Linked DNA regions of Homo sapiens. The protein of the gene in region 1 interacts with the protein of each later gene in a biochemical or structural test. Each region holds a gene or a part of one and is shown on either strand. Other genes may lie near its edges.

Region 1 (12,492 bases):
ATTTTCATTTTGAATATTTAAAGCAACTGAGTCTTTTGTGATGTCCAGTTTCACTTCAAAATATACCTTGCATTTTCCTTGATCCAGAAGGATTACTATCCCTACACGTATGCTTGCCGAGTATGTTTAACATTTGTGTTATTAGTAGTTATGAGTAGTATTAGTAGTATTTGGATTACCAATAAACCCAAAAAAGAGAAATGATGAGGAAGTTGGATTTCTAAAGTTAACTTACCAAAATATAGTAGATAAAGACAAAGAAGAAACATTGAAATGGCTCTGGTGAGTTCTGAAAAAGACTTCATAGGAGGTAGGGGGCTAAGTAGATTTTGAGAGGAGAAAGGAGCAGAGGAAGACAGGGTTTGTCCGTGATTCCTCTCAGGGGCATAAAGCAGGTGGAGAAATGGCCTTAGATGCTCAGTTCTAGCTGCCATGTGTGCAACTGATGACACACACCACAGTGATGGGATTCACCAAGCCCAGGAGCCCGAAAATGAAACCAACTTTACTTTTCTAATATTGAACCTAAGATGACCTATTTTGACTAATGTCAGATAAACTTTTTTCCAGATGTTTTCAAATGTTCTCTGCCCACTCCAGTGATTTTTTTTAGTCATATTCAAGTATTAATATTTCTACTTTGGTTTGTTTCACAAATGCTATTTAGGTATTCTCTTTCCATTCTTTCTCCTACCCCACTGTCCCCTGCACGCACTGCCGGATGGAAGGACTTTGTTTTTTGTGATGGACCTTGAATGTGAGAGGGAATGAGTCTTTTGTGTGTGTGTGTGTGTGTGTGTGTGTGTGTGTGTGTTTCACATGTGGGATGGCCTGGAGGGTATACTTTTTTCTAGTCTTATGTGTTTTTTAGCATGGGTGATGTGGGAGAGATTGCTAGTTGTTTATCAATATCAGTGTCTTTTACACAAATAGAACTTCTGATTTTTAGTTGGACACATGTTCCCTTTGAATAAAGATAACAATTGCAGCCAGCTGTGGCAGAAGAAAAGTGTACACCTTCCAGGTGGTATCCTTCTTTTTTCATTTTCTTGAGTTAGAATTCAGACATGCCAATGAGCCATCTTGGACATGCAGGTGTAAACAAGCACTCTAGGAATGGTGGTTCTGAGATAGAAGGCCTCCTGGACAGCCTCATAGGACAGAACTACCATATCAGCCCTGGACTGCCTTTCCAGGGTGTTTTGTGTGAGATAAATAAATTTAGATTTGCTTAAGCCATTGTAAATTCGGGTCTTCGTTACAGTAGCTGAACTTACATCCTAACTAGCAAGTGGTGGAAGGAGAGGAGGCTAATCAATGTAACGGGATGTTACACATACAAGAAACTTGCTCAATAGGTGCCAAGAAAAGGTGGTGAATAGTGGATAGATGTGGACTACAAGGAGGTTCCCAGAAGCAGCAGTATTGTCTCTGTTAATGCTACAGAGGTAACCAAGCCTTTAAGGAACATATTAGAAGTATAGTATTCCCATGTAATGCAATACCCAGAAATGCATTGTGGAGAAAAAACAATTCTTTATCACTGAAACTCAATAAACAACTTAAGGTATTCCCTAGAAGAAATGATTAAAACTCCATCCCAGTACTGTTTGGCTGACCTTAAGATCAACTTGATGTTTAGCATCCCATATTTATAGAGTTTAGATTTTAAAGAGGAAGGATTAATGAACATGTTTACTGACTGATTAAAAGAATACATCATAAAGCAGAGAATATTCTTCAGTTGCGGCAAGACAGCAATGTGTCTGTACTTTGCAAGTTCATAGACAGGTTTCAAGGCAAAAAAGCTGGAATCTTTTGGCTACACAAGCAATAAACACCAAAGATACTCATCCAGCTAGATTTCCTACCTCCCAGAGTTCATGGAAATTACCAAGTGTCATTCAATAAGTGTAGGAGATATGGGGAAACAGAGATTATCAGAATTTCATCACGTCCTTGGGCTCAACAGTAATTCTTAGTCCTTCTGAGCACATTTAGATCATGGGTACATTCTAGAAAGTTACATTCGTCAAAGGTGAAATACATCCTTTGCCTAGAGTGAATGTATTATTTAATCAGCTGAAATCATTAAAGCCACCTACATCATGACTGATGTGAGGATTTTGTCCAATGCCCTGGGATGGATTGGGGATGTGCCCAGCACCCTCCCACTCAGTATGCATCTGGAAGCTCTCCCTTTCTTCCAGCCCAGAGAGAGTCTGTGTCTGGGGAGGGGTGGGGAGTGTGTGTTGTCTGGGAAGCACCGGGATGCATATCAATCACACTGTTTGGCGGGTAGCACAGACACACTGCCCCTTTATCCAATCACTATGCAGGCCGTCCCTGGGCCAGAAAGGAGAACTCTTTACGATACAGATGGTGCTATTAGTTTCAATAAGAATGTTTGTGAAGTGCTTAACAGTTTACAGAGTCCTCTAGGTTATTTGTTTTTATTTTGCCAGGAACAACATTTAGATGGCGGATTTTGATCCTGGTGTTTGCACTTTCCAGCCACATCCTTCTAACTGACTAATCAACAAAGATGTGTGGAACTTGTCTCCTGGATCTATGATAAAAATGGGCCTAGAAATGTCCCAAGCTGGGAACTCACTGGTTTTTTACTGGTGATGGCTTCTGATGCTACCACCATCCAGAACACCAGGGACCTCTCTTGATCCCACAGATATCTTTTCATGACCATTTCTCTGGACACATTTCCTCCCTACCCAGCTGGTTGTTTAAATTGATCTTTTCATGTTAACATGTTCAAATTTTAGAGAATACACCCACTATAGGCAGGTCTGTTCATCTTTTTTTTTTTTCTTGTTGTTCATTTTATTTAGCTTTAGCTTAGCCCACTTATCAGACACCTGTGTGTTGTTAAAACAGTTAACTTCTCAGTTGTACCTTCACATTTACATAACTTCACCAACCTTTTGGTCATGGAGGAAGCAAAGTCCTTTTTATCCATTGTGACTAGGTCTCTCACTTAGGACCAGGACAAGCTGTACCTCCAGCAGCCTCTCAAGTCCCTTCAACCTTCCTTTGTAGAAAACAATTCAGGCTTCCAATAGGCACTCTGAACTACTGCTTTTTCTCTGCTACTTAAAAGAATTTTGTAGCCCATCTACCTTGACCAATCCTTCATTTTTTATGGTGTCACTAGTTTGTAACAGTGTCTCCTTTACTCAGGATGCGTGCCTCTCATTGAGTCCACAAATCACCCCCCTACAAGTCTCTTATCAGTACATCTGCCCATTCATGCATATGAGTAAGCTGTTAATCAGCTTTTGTTTAATATTACTATGAACATTTCAACTTCAAGTTAATATTGTAACTAGGTCTCTCCCTTAGGACCAGGACAGGCTGTACCTCCAGCAGCCCCTCAAGTCCCTTTGACCTTACTTTGTAGAAAACAATTCAGTCTTCCAATGAGCACTCAGAGCTACTGCTTTTTCTCTGTTACTTAAAAGAATTTTGTAGCCCACTTACCTTGACCAATCCCTCATTACTTCTCTGCATGGAAACTGATAAAAATTTATGTCTACTTCAGAGCCTGGCATCATCCCTGGCATTTTTTTTTTTCTTCTACCTTCCACATATGTCCCTGTCCCACTTACCAGCCAGAGAGGAGACGACAACAATGCTTCCATTGCTCTGCTTCAGCATGGGCAAGGCAGCTACAGTCAGGACCACGTAACTGAGGAAGTTGACTTCCATGCTTTTGCGCACATGGTGAATATCATCATGAAAAAGATTCAAAGAAGTGTTGGTGATGTGGTTGAGAATGAGCATGTCTAGTCCTCCTGCAAGAGATGGCTATATTAAGAAATCATCTGGGGTTGATACCTTTCCCATTCTCCTCCCAAAAGCTCTTGGTGACCCCAAGGGCAAAGTTCAGAGGAGGAGGTAAGAGAAACAGCCTCACCCATGAGCTTTCCTGCTTGGGCAACAAATTGCTCTGCGAAGGTCATGTCTTCCATGGTGCCAGCAATGTAGTGTGCTGAGGCTGCTCCAAGCTCCAGGCAGTGGGATACCACCTGCAGTGATACAGCAGAAATGGCATCAGTCTTAGCTGCAGATTTTTGGGGGGTAGTCTCTGAAGTAACGGGGGGCTTAAATGAGAGATTGCTCACAGCCCTGTTTAGGTAAGAAATGGTAAGTATGTTTGTGTGTGTGTTGCCTAATATAACCCTCATGATCATCGTCCTCTGTCTGAAATATTTTCTGGAACTTGGTGGGGTTCAAATGGATAAATCATCCCAGTGCTGGGGTTTAAGTTCATGATTTATGCTCATGGCTTCTGTGAATAGGCATTTCTGAGGGCATTATGAGTGTAGATGCTGGTTACTATGTGGGTAGCTCTAGGTTTGTGAATGTTTGTACATCCTTGGGTTTGTGAGTCCATGAGAGGGCATGTGTCTGGGAGTCTGCATGGGTATGAGGATATGTATTCATAAGCAGGTACTGGGATTTCAGTTTTTGAAAACATCCGTATGTATCTGTAGTTCCATGTGTAAATGTGTGTGACTAGGCATGTCTGTGAGCATATATAACTCAAGGACTCTGTTGCAGAATATATTACACACACACACATGAATGAATGCTTAAATGCATACTTTTATATTCCTGTGGGTTTTTTGGTGTTTGAATCTATATATGAGAGTGCAAAATTAAGTGTCTGTGTGTGTGCATGTGCCTCTGTATATAGATCTGCGATATGCTAGCTTCTGTGTATATGTGAGCATATATAAGAACACATCTGAGCATGTGACGGTACACATATCTGCGAGCATAGAACCCTCACCTTCTGTAGAGTTTCTTTTGACCTCGCTGTCACCACCACATGGGCTCCCATCTTCGCCAGATGATAAGCCATCTCTCTTCCGATCCCTTTGCTGGCCCCTGTGACAATCACTTTCTTTCCTTGGAGCATCTCTGGGGAACCCCAAAAGGAAGTGAGGACCATACCCAAGTTGGCAGCAAAATTCCTTCTCCCTCTCTGGATATAGGCATGCTTATCGCAATTTGTAACTTAAAGGTTATGAGCCCAGATCAGTTTGTCACAAACTCCGTAAATCACTGTGGGAACAGGCCAGGTCTTTCATAAACATGCTCTGAAGTGGGAGGTTTGGGCTGACAGCCTCCCTACTGTCATTTCTAAAAACCTCCATGGAAAGAGATCATAGGATGAAGCCAGAAAAGTCATGGTTCAGCTAAAATGCTGGAGTTCCAGACATTTCTGGACTCTTTCAATTTTGCTCAATTGAAAGTACATTTAACAAGGAATCAAAACACATGTGTTCATAGAAATTCCAGGGATTTTCCCTCACTTCTATGTAGTCATCATCTCCAGTTTTTTTTTTTTTTTTTTTTGCCTCCCACTTATCAGTCTCTTCATAGAGCCCAATTAGCTGCTGAGTTGTGAATTTGGGTATTACTCTCATTTTTGTAGAAGATTTGAAACTGCTTTCCATTAAGGGTGCCAAATAAAGCATGGCCTATTTGGCTAGATTTTGGCTACACGATTACCCTTCCTACACAGTCCCCCCTGTCCACAGCCTGTAGCTGGAGGACACAAAAATACCATCTTAACTCAGGGTTCCCTCATTTTCACCAACTTTGAGGATCAAGAACACATCTTGGTCCTCAGGAACACTCAAGCACCCCTGTGTTTTTTAAACCTATTCCTCCAAAATGAGACGCATGGGTACTTACCTGGTCTGAATTCCTCGTTTGCAGAATAGTAGTAGTAGGCCATGAAGAGCCCCAGAATGGGGAGGAGATATTTTTTCATAAAAGCCATCCGACAGGGAGCTGGCCTGAAGACTCCTGTAGGACACACAGAGAGAACCTACAGAGCTTTCTACAACCTCCTAAGCAGGCAGCAGCCTCTGAATTGTGACATCAGGGACGGGGGAGGCTGGAGTAGTCTCAGGCAGTGCTAGCCAATTTCCCTGTCAGAGCAGCGATTGGCTTTGGGTGGGATCCCATTCGTCCCTGGCAGCCTGTGTGGTGGATTTCATAATGGACAATGTTTACTCCATTTCATTGAGCAAGAGGAGACTTCCAGATGGCCAAGCTCATGACTGTACAGGACTGGATTCCTGAGCATCCCTACCCGAGTCCATCTTACTCTTAACACCATTTACGCCAGGGATCAATGATCTTTCAAAAGTAATTTGTCAAAGACAGAGAGAGAGGAGTGCATGTAGGGCTTCTGGGGGGAAATGTGAGTAATAGCAAAGAGAGCCAAACTCAAGCCAAATCTCACTCTCAGTCCCCCTACCCCCCCACCCAGTGGGAAGCAATTAAAAATAACAGCACAAAACAGCAAAATAAGCTTAAGAAAAAAAATGTGCACATTTTGGGAAAAAATAATGAAAGCAAAGAAGCTCTATAAGCCCCACACTCAAGTTCAATGAAAAAGTATTACAACATCAAAGGAGAAATTGCAAGCCAGCCAGAACCCAGATGGCGGGAAATCCAAGACTGGTTCAAGACTCTAAGGCAAGTGCAATGGATCATACACTTATTATTTTAACAGAGAACAAAGAAGAAATAATGAGTGACAAAAAAGGCACTAAACTATTAAACTGGGTCTTGTAAATGCTGTAGAGCAACAAGAAACATGGAGAAGATGCTAGGAAGAGGCGACCTGATGTAGAAGAAAAAAGAACTAGCATTAGGCAAGTGAAACTAGCTGGGGACGCCCACACCAGCTAAAAATAGATCTAGTAACAGTAAAAGGACGAGGGTGGTAAGAAACCCTTAGCAATTTAGAATTTATTATCAGGGAAATATAAAAATAACCACCTCAGTATGTCCGTAGCACGAATTCATTAAGGAATAATCCTCAAAGAAAGAATTTAAGATGTATCATTGTTAAGTTTTTCAACTCAAAACCAACCAATCAACTCATGGAAATTACCCCATCACAATGCAGTCCTGCATTCTGTAAGTTATCAGTAGAGCGGGGAAAAAATTTAAATGTGATAATAAGTATCAGTGCTTTGGAGGAGGGATAGGAGTTGGGAGTAGTGGGGGGACAGAATTTACACAAGGTTAAGGGAAATTAAGTTATGATTCCAAGTGCAGTATCTGGAAACATTCATCAAATTTTCACTTTAGAGTAAGAGAAAATAATTTAAGACCCAGAGGAGATGAAACAATTTGTCAACAAAGGCCCACAGCTGTGAGGGTCACTTGTAGAAAACAATGGAGATTTGAGAACAGTTGAGGGCTAGACAGAGCTCGAGGTCTATGAAGGACAAAAAGAGAAAAAAGATAAAATTCAAGTAAAAATTAGATTACATGCCTTTAGAACTGCAAGCTACATTTGTATAATTTTATAAATATATTTATGATACCAGGATATATTACAGACTACACTCCATTTTCATCCCTAGAGGGAAGGCAGTGCCAGCCAGAACCCAGATAAGGTTTATTTTCTTAATCCTATACTATTAATAGTAAAATTATAGGAAACAATGAAAAGTTATTTGGAAATATGATGATGTTGAAATGATAGAAAGATGGGCAGACTAGGGATGTTTATTGTCTGACATAAAAAATAAATAAAGAATTTTAAAGTCCATTAAGAAAACATAAATTTAAAGAAAGCAAAAATAACAATGAGTAAGATAAACTGCAGAGTAATAGAACACAAAGCAAATGCATTAACAATTGCTGATTGTTGGCTCCATTAAAAAATGAAGTCCAACATTGTGTGGCCTCAAAAGACACATTTAAACCCAAAGACACAAACAGATTAATAATTAGATGACCTAATAGCTACGATGCTAGAAAATAAGGATATGGCAAAAGCATCCAATAAAGTGAGTTTCATGGGATTAGATAAAATAATTGCTATATAAAATGCATTGATGAGAAACAAGGACACTGTGTAATGGTAGTTGATGCATTAAATCTTACCAGTTCTCAAATTTTTGGTCTCAGGACCCTTGTATACTCTTAATAATTTCCAAGGACCTCAAAGAACTTTTGCCTGTGTAGGTTTTACCTATTGATATTGCTATTGCAATTTATGCATTAGAAATTAAGACTGAGGATTTTTTTCTAAAGCTCAAGAATACATAAGCATACATTCCATTAGCATTCAGGGCAGTGGCATTAGCATACATCCTGTAGCCTCTGGAAAAGTCAGGTAATGTCTTAGTATAATTATGAAAATAGTTTTGACCTTTCAACCCTTCAAGAGGGTCTCAGAGACCCATGGGGACCACACTTTGACCATATTATATAATAAACATCTAATCCACTTTGTGTCCATATTTACATGGCTGGTTCTCTCATTAGCTTGTAAACTCCTGGAGGACATAGATTATGTCTTTTTCATCTTTGTCTCTTTCCATTTCCCACTAGCCTTGCTCCAAAATAGGCATTCAATAAACTTGCTGTTTTAGTGTTTTTGAGATACTGCAGCAATGAGAAAATTGCTGTCTTCCTGGAGCCTGGTTTAATCTGGGGAAATCACTGGGATTCAGCATTCTGGTCAGAACAGATCAATCCCATCCCCCAAATCTTCTTTCTGGGGTTGTCAACAAAGTTTTAAAAAATAATAAAGACAAAATGAAATACAACTGTTTCAGCTAGCATTTGTTTCAAGTCAAGTATTCCCTGATTGAATTAAAGTTCCATAGAAAAACAGTGAACAGTTCACTCCACTCCTTGCACCCTCCTTTGTAATACACTGACCATTCCCATTCCAGAGCAGGCTTTCAGCAGATACCTGGAGCCTACCTGCACAGAATGGGCTTTTCACTGCTGGAGGTGAGTATTAGAGCCCAGCCAGGAATTCTCTCTGATTTGATCATTCTCACCAGAATAAATGGAATCAAGCACAAGCAACAGAGTGAGAAGAACATAGGGGCTGAATGAACAAGAATGGGACTGTGAAGGATGGGCCAGATCTGGGGAGACTGATAGGAGATGGCAAAAATGTGAGGAGGGGCAGCCAGAGGGGAAGTTCCTTGCATTTGGCATAAAACGTTGATCATGAAAGAAACACCTGTCATTTAGAAGGTGGCAGCTGTAGTGCTTTTCATGACTATTTAGTAGATTTGTTAAGCAAGTGCTCCCATTTGAAAATGAAATCTTGTTGGGCAAACCTCAGAGTAAAAAGTAGGTAAACACTGTGTTCAGAGGTTCTGCCTTTCCTGGGAGAATAACACTGCAACGTTGAAACAGGAGAGGATCTTTGCATTACATGAGAATTGATAGGGTCTGGCTGTGTCCCCACCCAAATCTCAACTTGAATTATATCTCCCACAATTTCCACATGTTGTGAGAGGGACCCAGGGGGAGGTAATTGAATCATGGAGGCTGGTCTTTCCTGTGCTATTCTCTTGATAGTGAATAAGTCTCACGAGATCTGATGGGTTTATCAGGGGTTTCCACTTTTGCTTCTTCCTCATTTTTCTCTTGCTACTGCCATGTAAGAAGTGCCTTTCACCTCCCGCCATGATTCTGAGGCCTCCCCAGCCATGTGGAACTGTAAGTCCAATTAAACCTCTCTTTGATCCTGGTTTCGGGTATGTCTTTATCAGCAGTGTTAAAATGAACTAATACGGTAAATTGGTACGAGTAGAGTGGGCTGTTGCTGAAAAGATACCTGAAAATGTGGAAGTGACTTTGGAACTGGGTAACAGGCAGAGGTTGGAACAGTTTGGAGGGCTCAGAAGAAGACAGGAAAATGTGGGAAAGTTTAGAACCTCCTAGAGGCTTGTTGAATAGCTTTGACAAAAATGCTGATAGTGATATGAACAATAAGGTCCAGACTGAGGTAATCTCAGATAGAGATGAGGAACTTGTTGGGAACTGGAGCAGAGGTAACTGTTGTTATGTGTTAGCAAAGAGACTGTTGGCATTTGCCCCTGCCCTAGAGATTTGTGGAACTTTGAACTTGAGAGAGGTTTTTTAGGGTATCTGGCAGAAGAAATTTCTAAGCAGCAAAGCATTCAAGAGGTGACTTGGGTTCTGTTAAAAGCATTCCATGTTAAAAGGGAAAACTAGCATAAAAGTTCAGAAAATTTGCAGCCTGATGATGTAAAAAAGAAAAACACATTTTTTGAGGAGAAATTCAAGCCAGCTGCTGAAATTTGCATACGTAGCAAGGAGCCAAATGTTAATCCCCAAAACCATGAGGAAAATGTCTCCAGGCCATGTCAGAGACCTTCATGGCAGCCCCTCCCATCACAGGCCTGGAGCCTAGGAGGAAAAAGTGGTTTCATGGGTGGGCCCAGGGTCCCTGTGCTATGCGCAGGCTAGGGACTTGGTGCCCTGTGTCCCAGCTGAAAGGAGCCTGAAAGGAGCTAGCCTAGAGCTCAGGCTTTAGCTTCAGAGGGTGGAAGCCCCAAGCCTTGGAAGCTTCCGCGTGGTGTTGAGCCTTCCACATGGTGCACAGAAATCAAGAATTGAAGTTTGGGAACCTCTGCCTAGATTTCAGAAGATGTATGGAAATGCCTGGATGCCCAAGCAAAAGTTTTCTGCAGGGCAGGGCCCTCATGGAGAACCTCTGCTAGGGCAGTGTGGAAGGGAAATGTCGGGTTGGAGACCCAACACAGAGTCCCTACTGGGGCACTGCCTAGTGGAGCTGTGAGAGGAAGGCCAATGTCCTCCAGACCCCAGAATGGTAGATCCACTGGCAGTTTGTGCCATCTGCTTGGAAAGCCGCAGACACTCAATACCAGCCCATGAAAGCAGCCAGGATGGAGGCTGTACCCTGCAAAGCCACAGGGGCAGATCTGCCCAAGACCATGGGAACCCACCTTTTGCATCAGTGTAACCTGGATTCAAAGGAGATCATTTTGGAGCTTTAAAGTTTGACTGCCCCTTTGGATTTTAGACTTGCATGGGCCCTGTAACCCCTTTGTTTTGGCCAATTTCTCCCATTTGGAATGGCTGTATTTACCCAATACCTGTACCCCTATTGTATCTAAGAAGTAACTAGCTTGCTTTTGATTTTACAGGCTGATAGGCGGAAGGGACTTGCCTTGTCTCCGATGAGACTTTTAGACTGTGGACTTTTGGGTTAATGCTGAAATGAGTTAAAACTTTGGGGGACTGTTGGGAAGGCATGATTGGTTTTGAAATGTGAGGACATGAGATTTGGAGGGGCCAGGGGTGGAATGATATGGTTTGACTGTGTCCTTACCCAAATCTCAGCTTGAATTGTGTCTCCCAGAATTCCCACGTGTTGGGGGAGGTACCTGGGGGAGGTAATTGAATCATGGGGGCCAGTCTTTCCCCTGCTACTCTCTTGATCTGATGGGTTTATCAGGGGTTTCTGCTTTTGCTTCTTTCTCATTTTACTCTTACTGCTGCCATGTAAGAAGTGCCTTGTGGCTACCACCATGATTCTGAGGCCTCCCCAGCCAAGTGGAACTGTAATCCAGCTAAACCTCTTTTGTTCCCAGTTTCAGGTATGTCTTTATCAGCAGTGTGAAAATGAACTAATACAATAACGCATAAGATTCTCCCTTTCTTGCCACCCCCACCCCCATTCTCACCCCAGTTCCTCAGAACTCACAGCTGCCAAGATCTTTTCCTGTCTATAGAAAGAACTATCATTTCATGCAATTTTGTCCAGTAACAGACTCCCTCCTCCTTCCCTTCCTCCTGTTCTCCTCCCTCATGTGTGTGTCTAACGAGGGGAGAAGTTCTCATTTGTCAATCCTTCATGTCAATCTCAATGGACAGATTTATTCTATTTTTTAGCTAACGGAATCGTGGATCTGGGAGAATGAAGTAGGCATGGGATAAATTGCCCTCTGTGTGCTTTCCTGTTACTGCCTGGCACGTGTAGCTTGTGGTAGGGGACTGAGAGGGTAGAATACCTGGAATCTATTTGCCTGGGAGAGCCAAGGGCCTTCTAGGAAAGAAGAGACCCTCACGAGGTCACGAGCATGGTCTGATCCCTGCCCCCAGTGGAGATGGAGATGCAAAGAGTTCTTTTTATAATCAAAAAAATTCTGTTGTTTTTATGTTTTAAGGGCATGATCTAAGTAGACAGTTCTAAGCATGTTGTAGTTGTAGTTTTTCAGGTTTTCTCTCTTGCCTAGCTCCTGTGGATTCACATCTGAGCATAGAAGAGAGAGGGGGCCATGTAAGAACTAAACAAAGTTATTCAATGGAAGGTCTGTTGAAACATTGGCAGCATGGGGAGCAGTGGGAGAGCCCCACACAGCTGAGAGGACTGACCTCAGCATGACCACCACAGGGCTTTGGCCCATCTTGTGTTTTTTCTTGGTTGGCCAGCCCAACTTTCAGGAAGCACGCTAGGGTGACACCACAGCCCCAGCCAGGTGGGCATCTCAAGGTTCCAGGGATGTCAGCATTAGAAGGAAGTCACTTGCCCCTGGTGGGACATAGGGTTGCCAGATTTAGCAAATAGAAATACAGAATGCCCAGTTAAATCTGAATTTCAGATAAATGACAAATACAGTTAAATCTGAATTTCAGATAAAT
Region 2 (11,833 bases), on another chromosome or scaffold:
TTTTTATGAGTCTCTGTTGTACCACCTCCTTGAGTTTGAATCTACACTAGGAAGTCTGAATCTTCTCTTTTCCTTGTAAAAGATTGCACGGATAATTCTTATTTCAAAAACAAGAAGGAAAAGCACTCCATTGATTTAATTCCCCCTTCTTTATTACCCTACTCAAAGTATACTTTCAAAATTATTGGTGACCATGTTCTAATCATTATTTTCTTAATTTTCATCTGCCTGAGAACATTTTATGCTTTCTTTCCTTGAGTTCTGGCCTCCTATTAACTTCTAGGATTGTACTCTTTGTTTGTTTCTTCATATAAGATCATTCTTTTCCTTTTCTACTTTTGTCTTCCTGCCTCTGAATTATTACAAATTCTGTAATAATTCTTCTGCTTTTTCCTCTCTCCATTAAAACTCTCTAAAAGTAAATCTACTGTTTAGTTTTATTTTTAATCTTTATAGCAATGATCAAATCTATTTGAACTCTGACCTTTGAAACACAGACTGATGTTCATAAAACATCACTTATAAAACCTCTGTTTTACTTTGTAAGGTATATACATACCTTCTATCAATAACTCACTGGACATCTTGAGTTTGATGCTTTTACTCCTCTAATTTAATCTGTCTCTCCAAGCTTCCATTTCATCCTATTATCTATCAGTTTTTTTTTTCTATATACTCAACCATGCCAGACCAGTGTGCCTTTTGTTATATAATGTGCAGATTATGCAAATATCTTTCTAAAAGGGAATCTTATATTCTCCTTGAAAGTGGTCATATCCTACAGTTTTTTGTTTGTTTGTTTTCCTATCTCTGGTATCCTCACTTTGCAACCTTTCTGCTGTAGAGTAGTATACAAGGCCAGGTTTTTCATCTAGGCTCTTCCTACAGATTGCTTACATTTGGAGAATGACTTCTTTCCCTATTGGCTAGGTGAGTTGGCAAGTTGATTTAAGGACTTGCGCCTGTAAGATGAGTAAAATAACAGCAACTTCTCACAGATATTTTTGAAGATTAAGTGAACTAGTATATAGGAAACTCTTAGTAAGAATTAAATGTTAGCCATCTAATCTCTAAATTCAGGTTTTATCATATCTTACACTTGCTGAAAAACATACCGACGACTATTGTGTATTGTATCATCAATTAAGTATTTTTCTGCCTGATGTTCTAAGCTTGCTTCCTAACTCTAACCCCATGTTAACTTCTAATCTTTTCTGCTGTTAATCCAGTATTATGGGCACATTCTCTACCTTCTTCCTTCCATCTTCACTGCATTTGGTAGCATTTTCACAGGGTTTTTCATACTATCAATCAGTCCTTTAATATGGTTACTGCAGTTATTTGAGACTTTCAAAATTCTACACTTCTTTAAAATCTGAATCAAGTCCTACCTTTTTCCTGAAGTTTCTTGAATACTCTGAGAGATTTCTCTTTCAAAGTATTACAGCATTTACTTTTCCAATTCAATTCTAGAGTCTCATAGGTCTCGGTATTTTTTATTATAATATATCTTCCCCTGGTTATAGCTTACAATAGATGAGATTATATTATTCTCTTAGTCATTATACAAAAGCACATTTTGATGTCAGAAAACTTACTTTCTCATGGTTAACTATTATAAGCATAAAGATAAATATTAAAGAATTAAAATAAATGCTAGCACCTCACATGCTATTCAAAAGAATCTACATGTACCAGTTTTGTTGCATGACAAAGAAAAAAATTAAATCATCAATACTCAGTTATTGACCAATAATTATGTGTCAGCAAAAAAAAGTAGTCTAAATCGCTGTGCATTGGAAGATTATTGTGATTTTTGAATTTGGAAAACTTTTCCAAATGATGTTGTAGTCTGTACGTTAACACAGACACTGATCTTGTACTTTCTCTGCATAAGATCTGGGTGAGAACATAGTTTATGAGTAGGAAGGATGTCAGATCAATGGCCACTCCATCCCACTATTAGATAAGCCCCACACCTCACTATTACCTGTCTGTTTCCATTGGCCTGTATTAAAAATACTATCAAGAAAACTAAGAATTCCAAGGCAGGGGATACTAATTTACATATGTTTTTTCAGTTAAATGCATGAGGCTGAAGTTCTGCAATATGTTAGCAATAAACACAATACAGTCAGCCCTCTGTATTCATGGGTTCCACATCTGCAGATTCAACCAACTGTGGATCAAAAATATTAAAAATACTAACAATATAGCAATAAAAATTTAATAAAAATTCAATTCCTCCTGTTCTCCATCGTGCACTATGCTTACTAACCCTTTGTCTAGGTCATTGCCATCCTAACCAGGTAGAGAGTTGAAGGCAGAACTCGTTTTATTTGGCCAGTATTATGTTTAATAAAATGAACATTTATGCCTTCAGGCAGTAAACACACAGTCTAGTTCACAGCAGTTCCTGTTCTTCATTTTATCTTGTTCTTGGCACCTTAAATTTTGTTTAACCCCTGTATCCAAACTCCTGCAGCCATTTGAATTTGCCATCCCTGATTTAGAACTTCAGCAGAACTGCTTCCCTTTATTCTCTTCTTCCCCCTATCAATCAACGTTTCTGATGAGTGAGTGTGTAGCTAATTCGAATAAGCTAGGGTGGGAGATGAATTCTAGGTTGTTGTGCAAAGCCCATCTATTCAATCATTCTGTTTTTTCACACTACAGTCAATTTGTTTTATACTAAGACATGTTCTGCATATTTCTGAAAGTATTTTCTAAGATTCCAATATGAAGCTTCACAAATAGAAAATATTTATGAGATGAGATTATTACACATATATAAAAATAGTGGATTACTAAACAGTGTATTACCAAACAAGTTTACCTACAATTTAATAAGGATTTATGTTTCAATATTAAACACATTACACACACACACACACACACACACAGTTTTACTTTTCTCAGTATTAACTAAAGTGCAACTTCTTTTATAAATGTGCTTTTACAAAATATACTCACTTATTTCCTACTCAAAAGCATGCCAACATGCTCTTTGGACATAACTTAAAACAATTATTTCTACTAACATGCATACCTGTAGACAGCTTTTAATAGAATTTGGTATTTATATTTAAGACAGCAATGGAGTCATGTTAAATATACATTATACTTATAACATTTCACATAAAGTCGCATCATATAGAGTTGCAGTGGTTCATAATTACCTTTATGTCAAAGATACAAAATTAGCAGTTACCATGAAATATAAAGCAGGTAAATACAAAGCAAAAAAAGAGAAGTTAGAATCAATCAAAATGAGAAGGCATATTCTTTGGACTACTTGTACCTTTTTAATTGTCTTCTGGATAAGCAGGTCTCCAACTGGCATTAGAATACCTCCAAACACAGCCAGGACAGCACCAATGACAGCCCCAGCGATGAGCCCACAGTTCCGGTCACAGCCCATTTTTCTTGTTCAGGAGGTGAATTAGTGTTAAGCACCTGTTTCTTGCAAACTCCTGGATATGATTAAAGTGGTTTCTACAAGCTCTGGTTCTATCATTAGAAAGAGATCATAAAACAGAAGCTTAAATATCAGTACAAAAAGATCAAAGTACAAAGAAAACACCCACTGAAACGTATCATTTTGCCCGTTCTAAATAAACAAATGCTTTTCTTTTTGTTTCACCAAAGTGGCTTCCTCGGTCCGTCTCCCTTTTCTTGCTTCTAATGCCTACCAGTGGCAGAACTAATAATGTCATATCTGAATTTCTTCATATTCCTCCTTTTTAATTTTCTTTCTACACATGATTAACATATTGAAATCTTATCTAAGGAGAACTCTCACCCTCATCTCTCTTCCCTTGTCTCAGCAACTTAGTTGCATCCTCACTATCTGGTTTCTCCACCCAACACAACCTTCCACACCCCTTCTGGAGCTCTCCTGCGAACAGAATGTGGGTTGACTGATGTGTTTTCCATTAAATGATAAGCAAGTATGGTAACAGATGTTTTATTTACGATACCTTATTCACAAATCAACAGCAAGACATGAATTTTACAGGAAATGAACTGATGAGTCACAGAAAGAATCAATTCGTCTAATCATTGGAAAGCTATCTGTGAAAATAAGAAAAGCATGGGTAAATAGAAAAAAATTCTCAGAAATTTTATACTGGGACACTCTCTAATATCACCATACTTAAAATAACTGTTAAAAGAAAGTCTAATTTTCATGAATACTGAGTTCAGGCCTGAATGGCTTGTCCTAAAAACTGTTTAAAACATGGAATTTTTAAAATAAGAGTATCTTACTTTCAGTTTTATTGATGACTTTGGATAGACTACAGGTATAAAGAATTTGAAGCAAATATAAAATGTAGAGGATGTCTTGTTTCAACCATGGCATTGCTCTCTTACTGAAGAATTTTTTCCCTACACATTCAACTACAATATAGTTTGTCATTTGCAGTTGATTCATGCTAATTCTGTTAAAATTAGGTAGTTTGTGTTAGTATATATTTGTCAATCTAATGTTTGGTGTCTTCATAAAGTATGTGATTATTATTATTTTTTGAGACGGAGTCTTTCTCTGTCACCCAGGCTGGAGTGCAGTGGCACGATCTCGGCTCACTGCAACCTCTGCCTCCTGGGTTCAAGCAATTCTCCTGACTCAGCCTCCTGTGTAGCTGGGATTACAGGTGCACGCCACCATGCCTGGTTAATTTTTGTATTTTCAGTAGAGATGGGGTTTCACCATGTTGGTCAGGCTGGTCTCGAACTCCTGACCTCGTGATCCACCCACCTCAGCCTCCCAAAGTGCTGGGATGACAGGCGTGAGCCACCATGCCCAGCCATAGTATGTGATTATTATATAAAGATTGGGAGAGCCGGGCGTGGTGGCTCACACCTGTCATCCTAGCACTTTGGAAGGCTGAGGCGGGTGGATCACCTGAGGTTGGGAGTTTGAGACCAGCCCGACCAACACAGAGAAACCCCATCTCTACTAAACATACAAAGTTAGCCGGGCTTGGTGGCACATGCTTGTAATCCCAGCTACTCCGGAGGCTGAGGCAGGAGAATCGCTTGAACCCAGGAGGCGGAGGTTGCGGTGAGCCGAGATCATGCCATTGCACTCCAGCCTGGGCAACAAGAGTGAAACTCCATCTCAAAAAAAAAAAAAAAGATTGGAAGAAAGAATACAGTTTGTGAAATGAGTGGATCCTACTGTAATAATCAGAGTTAATTCTAACTAGTATTTGAAAACACATTTATTTGAACTTCTTTGTTGTTGCAATGACATTTTGTCAATAATGGGGTTGGCGTGTCATTTATAGTCAGAATGCGCTTTATAGTTTATAAACAATTATTCTCTACTTTGAAATGCTCATGGCCAAAGAAAACATATGTGCCAACGGAATGAAGGCTACAGTCAAAAAAGGGCACATAGAATATTGTTGTTAATGTTGTAAGTGTATTAATAATTGTGGTTTGTTATAATTTCAGGTTTTCCCTCCACAGCTGTCTTGCAACAGAGGTACCACTCTTATGATTTTATTAGTATTTACTTCCACTTTAGTAATCATATAGTTTTTCAAAAATATTACCTGTAGAGCTAAGAAAAGAATAAGAAAATGATATTTTCCCCCAAAATGTAGGAATAAATGTTACAAATATTTTTCTTGGCAATTTTATTATTTACATATGTTCCCTTAACCTTTGGGATTCCCCTTTGCCTATTCCCTTATACATAGGATACTTTCCAGTATAAACCATAGGATGCAATAAACTTCATTTACATCAAGGTCTTGGTGATTAAGAAGACTGACTAGTTCTTTAGTGTCATTTTTCTCCAATGTAAAGGGAATGCACATAAGTCTAAACAAGTGATTTGTTTTTCCTGTGGAATTTTCTGTCTCACTGAGCAAGTAGGGCTGGCTTTTTATTAATTGTTCAGGGTGGAGTGGTAACAATAGCTTTCCCTGCCCTTGGAAATCGTATACCATGCTACCTCATATGGCTTTGTCCATGGCTGTCCTAATGCAATGGAATGAGTAATTTAATGCTGGTAATCAGGACTGGATATTGTCAAATAGAATTTCCTTTGCAATGCATAATTGTAAAGCACTTGAAACTTTTCTTGAAACCATCTTTTAAGCAACCACAGTAATCGCCAACTAGAGAATGTCATGCTGGTGTTCTGTATGTTGTGAACTGATAATGAGATTTAGGGTAGTTTATTAGGTACATAATATTTTATTGAATGCCCATTTCATAGACCATCCCCAAATATTTTCTGCAAGTTATACTTAACGAAGCAATTAAAATATAGCGATCCCAGCTGGTTCAATTGAGATGAAGGGACAAGATTAAACCAAAGACTGATTTGTCACTGTCTTGCTAAATGAAAGCAGACAAGCCACATAATCTCTCTACACCTCAATTTCCTCATGCGTAAAATGAGATGATAAAATGAGATCAGCATTTTTTAATTTAAGCGGCTGAACTGGTTTTTCAATTCTTACGTGGAAGTGCATTAGGTAAAATGACTGATTCCACAGCAGTTAAGAAACCCAGAGACTCTGTTTCTTAACTTTGTCTTCCTGTTCCTGCCTGACACTCTTTATCCTCACTGTTAGGAAGCTCTAGGAGAACCTCTGTAGAAACCCACAGCTTTATGAGCCCACATAAAAAATGCAGCAGGAAACCCCCAGTGTCACATTCCAGTTTTGTTAATATAGTATGAAAATCTATTTAAAACATGTATAACTCAAGGATTAAGTTATCTCTCTGGAAAAGTTATTTTATGTTCCACATAAACTTCACTAAAAATTACTCATTCAATATTAATGTCATTTGCAACTCTGACAAATGTGATACAAAATGATTTAAAATTATAACTCTATTGCTGTTAGAATAGGTATATGTGCATATATTAGCCCTTCTCCAGATTCTATGCCACAACCTAGTTGTGAATCTATCTGGCCTTTTCCCAAATCATTCTTCTTTATTCAATCAAGTAGCTCCATGCACTACAGAGAAGAGTTTCTGCAAGGGGTAAAGAGTTCCAACAGTAACCACTGAAGAAACCAGGGAGTAGTGCATGCGCTCCAATGGCTCCCTCTCTAGACCTGAAAACTGATTAGTATAACTTCTATGGACTCTGAGCCTAGATATGTTGAGCAATGGACAGGCCTGGGTACTGCCTAGCTCTGTCTGCTTTGAACTTAAAACTGAAGTGAGATAGTGTACACATCCCACTGCTGTAGAGTCACATACATTAGAAAACAGAAGTATCAAGTAATTTATTCTGTTGAATTCTATGGTTAGACAGTTCTCAATCTAACATTGGTCAGGATGATATACAAGCAAAATTACAAGTATTAATCTAACAAAACTTCAATCCATGTGCTGATATTTTGAAAAAAGAGCTAGACAAACTGAACTTGTCTATTTGTTCAAATTTTCAACTGATTGATTGCCTCTTATTACTTTAAGTTTCTACCTTTTTCCTAAGAATAGGCAAAATACGTGACACTAGTTGGGTTCATTTATTATCACTCGGTGCCTTGACACCATGAGTAATGAAGTATTGTTATTATAATCATACTCTATCCTTAAGCTGCATATGACAAAATTATAATTAGTTTTATTCACCTGAGGCAAAGGAGAACCACCCATACTACGTAAGACGTGCACCAAATACAAAAGAGAAAAGTTCATGTTAAATAGCACATGTAGTCACACAGCTTTTCCACCTATATTTATCTTCAGAGAAAGAATGTAGTTTGTCTCCACCATTCCACCAAATTTAGCTGTCTAAAGCATAAAAAAATTTGGGTTATGCTTACTCAGTTTTCTTAATAACACAACTCCTTATATATGAAAATAGGTAATTAATTTCATTTGCTAATTGTAGATTAAATTTTATTCTTTACTAATTGTTACTTGTCCTTTATAAGAAACAGACAAGATATTGATACTGTATCGGTAATAATTTACTTCCTGCTTAAAATACTTAAATTTAGAAAGCCAAGATACAGAAAACTAATTGAGACTTGTATAAAGAAGAAAGGGAAAATAAGAAGACGTGTTTTAATAGGCAACTAATTACATGCCTTTCTTGATTCTATAGGCAGCTCAGTTGCCTTCTGTCCAGTTTATAGATTATAAATCCTATTCCTTTTGTAGAATTCATGAGTGGACCCTATTCCGTTGGGTCATCTTTGAAAGAGGGAGGAAAAATATAACTTTTTTTTTTTTTTGGTTATCAGGTCAACAGTGTTTCTGTAATGAACTTTTAAGCAAAATACCCTCCCACTATATTGGGAACCCAGTAGAAACAGAGACTAAGCTTTTTGCAAAGCCTGCATTAGACTGAGATATAAGAAGCCTCTTCAGTAAACAGTTTAGAACATTAGAGCAAGTCCCCAGAGCATCTATAATTAATCCCTTGTGTTTATAAAGCTGTGTTCCCTTGGAAACTCCACCCAGAAAAGGCATGGCCCTGAAGTAACATCTGCTGGGATGTAAACTATGAAATTTGAAAAGTTTTAGATTTCCAGGGTACTTGTACCATAGACACTTGCCAGACCTAAATGACATTTTCTTACTGATCAGTAGATTGCTAAAATTTCTTTTTTTTCTATCTATAAGCCTTCCTCCCACTTTTTCTTAGGATAGAAAACCAGACCACACTCTTGTTTTCCATTCTCTTGATACAGAGAGTTTTCCTTACCTAAAAAATACAGCATCTGTCCATAAAATCTAGTTTTTGGAGGACTTGGGGGAATTCATTCAACGGTTTGCATGAGTATAGAAGTTAGTTTTTAAAATTACTTTTTTCACATTATCATAACTATGTATGTTTATAAAGACACAGTTCCCTATACATGAGTAAAAATGTAGATTCAAATTCAAGGTAGTAGAAATGGGTGTAAAACAATCATTTAACTATGATTATGTTTCATCAACATAAGGTCATTAGGTCATTCTTTATAAAATCATGTTTAGAGATAGAATTCTCCTTTCAAGGTAAATTTTATGCACAATACCAATATAAAAGATAGTTCAAAGAAGAGTTATTTGGTAAAAGAAAGGAGCAGAAACTGTGCCTCTTCCCTTTCCCAGTCACGCTTCACTTGGGCTCTGAGTCATCTCCAAAGAACCCATGGGCTCCACAAGTAATTTTCAAATAACTGGACTATGAGATCTCCAGAATCTTATCTTACTGAAATTATCTCATGTCCATTTCTATCCTATCAGAATATATGATGGTAAAAATGTAAAATAGGAAAAAACTTGATAGACATCTGTAATATAAAATAATTACATACTTCTCAAATATTGCAATTTGTAACTTGTTTTGATGGTAGTCTTTAAAAACTAATGCAATAAATACATTGGACTTTATATATTATACTTGGGATCCTTCTAGAAACAAGTCCCGTCTTTTAAAGACTTATGAACCAGGGATTACTGTAGGTTTGAAATTATTCCCTTAAGTTCATACTGACTTAAAGAGTATTATCTAGACCCATTCTTAATTTTTGAACCTTAGACAAGAATGCTAATGTCTTTTTTCCACACCCCAAATTCTACTATAAACAGACACTATAAAGTTTGTAATGCCAAAAATGCTGGACCTTGAAGCCAAGAAATGTAGATTCAGTTCTGGGTGTTAGTATTGAAGTTTGTCTGTGATACAGTTTTCTCTAAAATGAGTTTACTTACATCAAATAAGGTTGCAAGTATTAAATGAAGTAAAATAATATATATTTATATTGTAGAAAATGTTATTGTTATTTTGAAATATTACTATGAAGTATCATTTCAAACCATAACAGTAAAGTGTTATTTCATATTGGCCAAGTGTTTTAAAAATCTAATAAATGTGTATATTTTACAAAAGTAGAAATGAGTATTTGCAAAATAGTTAGATTATAATGAAATGTGATCATATATGTATGGAATTAAAATATGCAAATGGAAAGACAGCTACTAGTTTAGAACAATGCTACTTGCAAGTTTCAGACACATCTTGGGCCAGTGAACAAAAACATCTTCTGATTAGATGCAAGGATACTTACAGAATTAAGTATCTGATAGTTACAGAATTATCTTAAACTTTCCTTTTCAGGAAACACACAGGAAATACACACACATGCAGGGTTCAAATGTGTTAAAGTAAACAAGGTTAAAAAAATTCCTTAAAAAAATAGGGTGGCAACTATAACTTCCAAGGTAAATTCCAAATTCAGTACACTCTGTGCAAGTACCTCCAGTTGTAATTAATATTCTTCCCAGGCTAACCCATTATCTGATGGTTCTCTGTTTGGTTTATTGTTCTGGTTCACTAATGAGTCTGGGAAATTAAATGATTTCTACTTTAGTTCTTATTTTCTTGTAAATTCCAAAGGACCACTGGACTTTCTATATAACAAACATTTTTAAATATTTCATTTTGGCTTCCTTGTGAACCAATATTTAAAGCAATATTTTTTAGCTTCAACACACATTACTGACTTCAAACCACACAGAAAAAGACTAAAAAGTACATGCAAATCTTTACAAAACAGGTTTCAATATGCTACTTGATGATTTCAGAAACTGGGATGTACTCTAGAGAATTTATGCCATTTACAGTTATTTATAATTTTAGTTAATGTATAATTAATTTGAGGCTTTTACTTAATTCCTCCAAATTGATTTCTCCTTTACTTCAACTTGGCATCATCATCTAATAATTCAGTACTATTTGTAATAAGCTTCCTGAATCGAAAAAAAATTAACTTTATTTTTATTCTACTAATTTACACTAATTAAATTTCAGATTATTTAAAAGTAATATACTTTGCTATTCCCAGTAACAATGACAATATCTTTGTTCATTACAGAAAAGAACTTAAAAAGCACATATCCAAAATACACATTGCATTTGATCATGTAGAGCAAGTCAGGTATACCAAAAGTTGTGCAATTCAGATTGAAAATTAAACAAGCTAATGACTCTGTAAAGTAATAGTTAATAATTGCATATTAGACAACATGTTGACATAAGAGCTGTAAGTCATTTATAACATCTAACCTCATTATATTGGTCTGCAGTATAATGATCTTCATCATTTAAACATCATGTATAAATAGCCTAAGTATAAAATGAAAGTTTTATAATAATCCAAATTGGATTATAAATCACTTTAAATATTAACTTATACATACGACATGAAATGCCATTGGGTATGGTTTAAGCATAAAATATAGGAAGGTTGATAACTTGAAAATAATGCAAACCTGATTTTTAGATAAAGCCTAGTGACTAAGAAAACAGTTACTACCTTTTTTCCTGTCCTCCTATATAACTTCTTAGGAGTATTTATACAGTAGTGTCACCTCCCGTCATCTGGGTGATGGGAAAAATCCCTTAATCTTTTTTATTTAAAGAAAAATCATACAACTTACCTTTAAAATGGCTAAGAAGGATTTTTCAATCAAATGCTCCAACATTTGGACAATTCTTAATAGGATCAAATGGTATTCTGCAGGAAAGTCCTACACTGCAGTCCTCAGTACATAAATGCGTGAGAGTTTAAATATGCAACCACACCCCCTCCCCCCCCCAAAAAAAGAGAAGAGAAAGCACTCTACAGTGTCAGATCCCAGTGTGTGGTTTGTTGCCAGAGGAATTGAAAGAAAAAAAAAATCCCCCACACAGCACATTACTGATATGGCTAATAAGGGTCTATTTTTATGTTCTGGTGAAGACCCATTACCTATATCTGAGATATTCAGCATTTTTTTTTTTTTTGGCTATTTCCCATCCAAGTAAGTCAGAGGCCAGAAAAACAAAAGGAACTGACTTGCTGAGTTTCCCCTAACA

The links.
Region 2: the proteins of HSD11B1 (region 1) and CD36 form a complex in vitro, tested with the Homo sapiens proteins (one study listed by BioGRID).

Annotation. Positions count from the first base shown.
Region 1 is NC_000001.11:209,698,260-209,710,751, reverse strand, and holds the start of HSD11B1 (11-beta-hydroxysteroid dehydrogenase 1), read right to left. Parts: upstream 5,907-12,492; 5' UTR 5,810-5,906; coding exon 5,722-5,809; intron 4,942-5,721; coding exon 4,811-4,941; intron 4,044-4,810; coding exon 3,932-4,043; intron 3,810-3,931; coding exon 3,624-3,809; intron 1-3,623. UniProt on the Homo sapiens protein: Controls the reversible conversion of biologically active glucocorticoids such as cortisone to cortisol, and 11-dehydrocorticosterone to corticosterone in the presence of NADP(H).
Region 2 is NC_000007.14:80,638,329-80,650,161, reverse strand, and holds the start of CD36 (platelet glycoprotein 4), read right to left. Parts: upstream 11,521-11,833; 5' UTR 11,416-11,520; intron 4,075-11,415; 5' UTR 3,981-4,074; intron 3,914-3,980; exon of another isoform or gene 3,803-3,913; intron 3,717-3,802; exon of another isoform or gene 3,511-3,716; 5' UTR 3,422-3,510; coding exon 3,302-3,421; intron 1-3,301.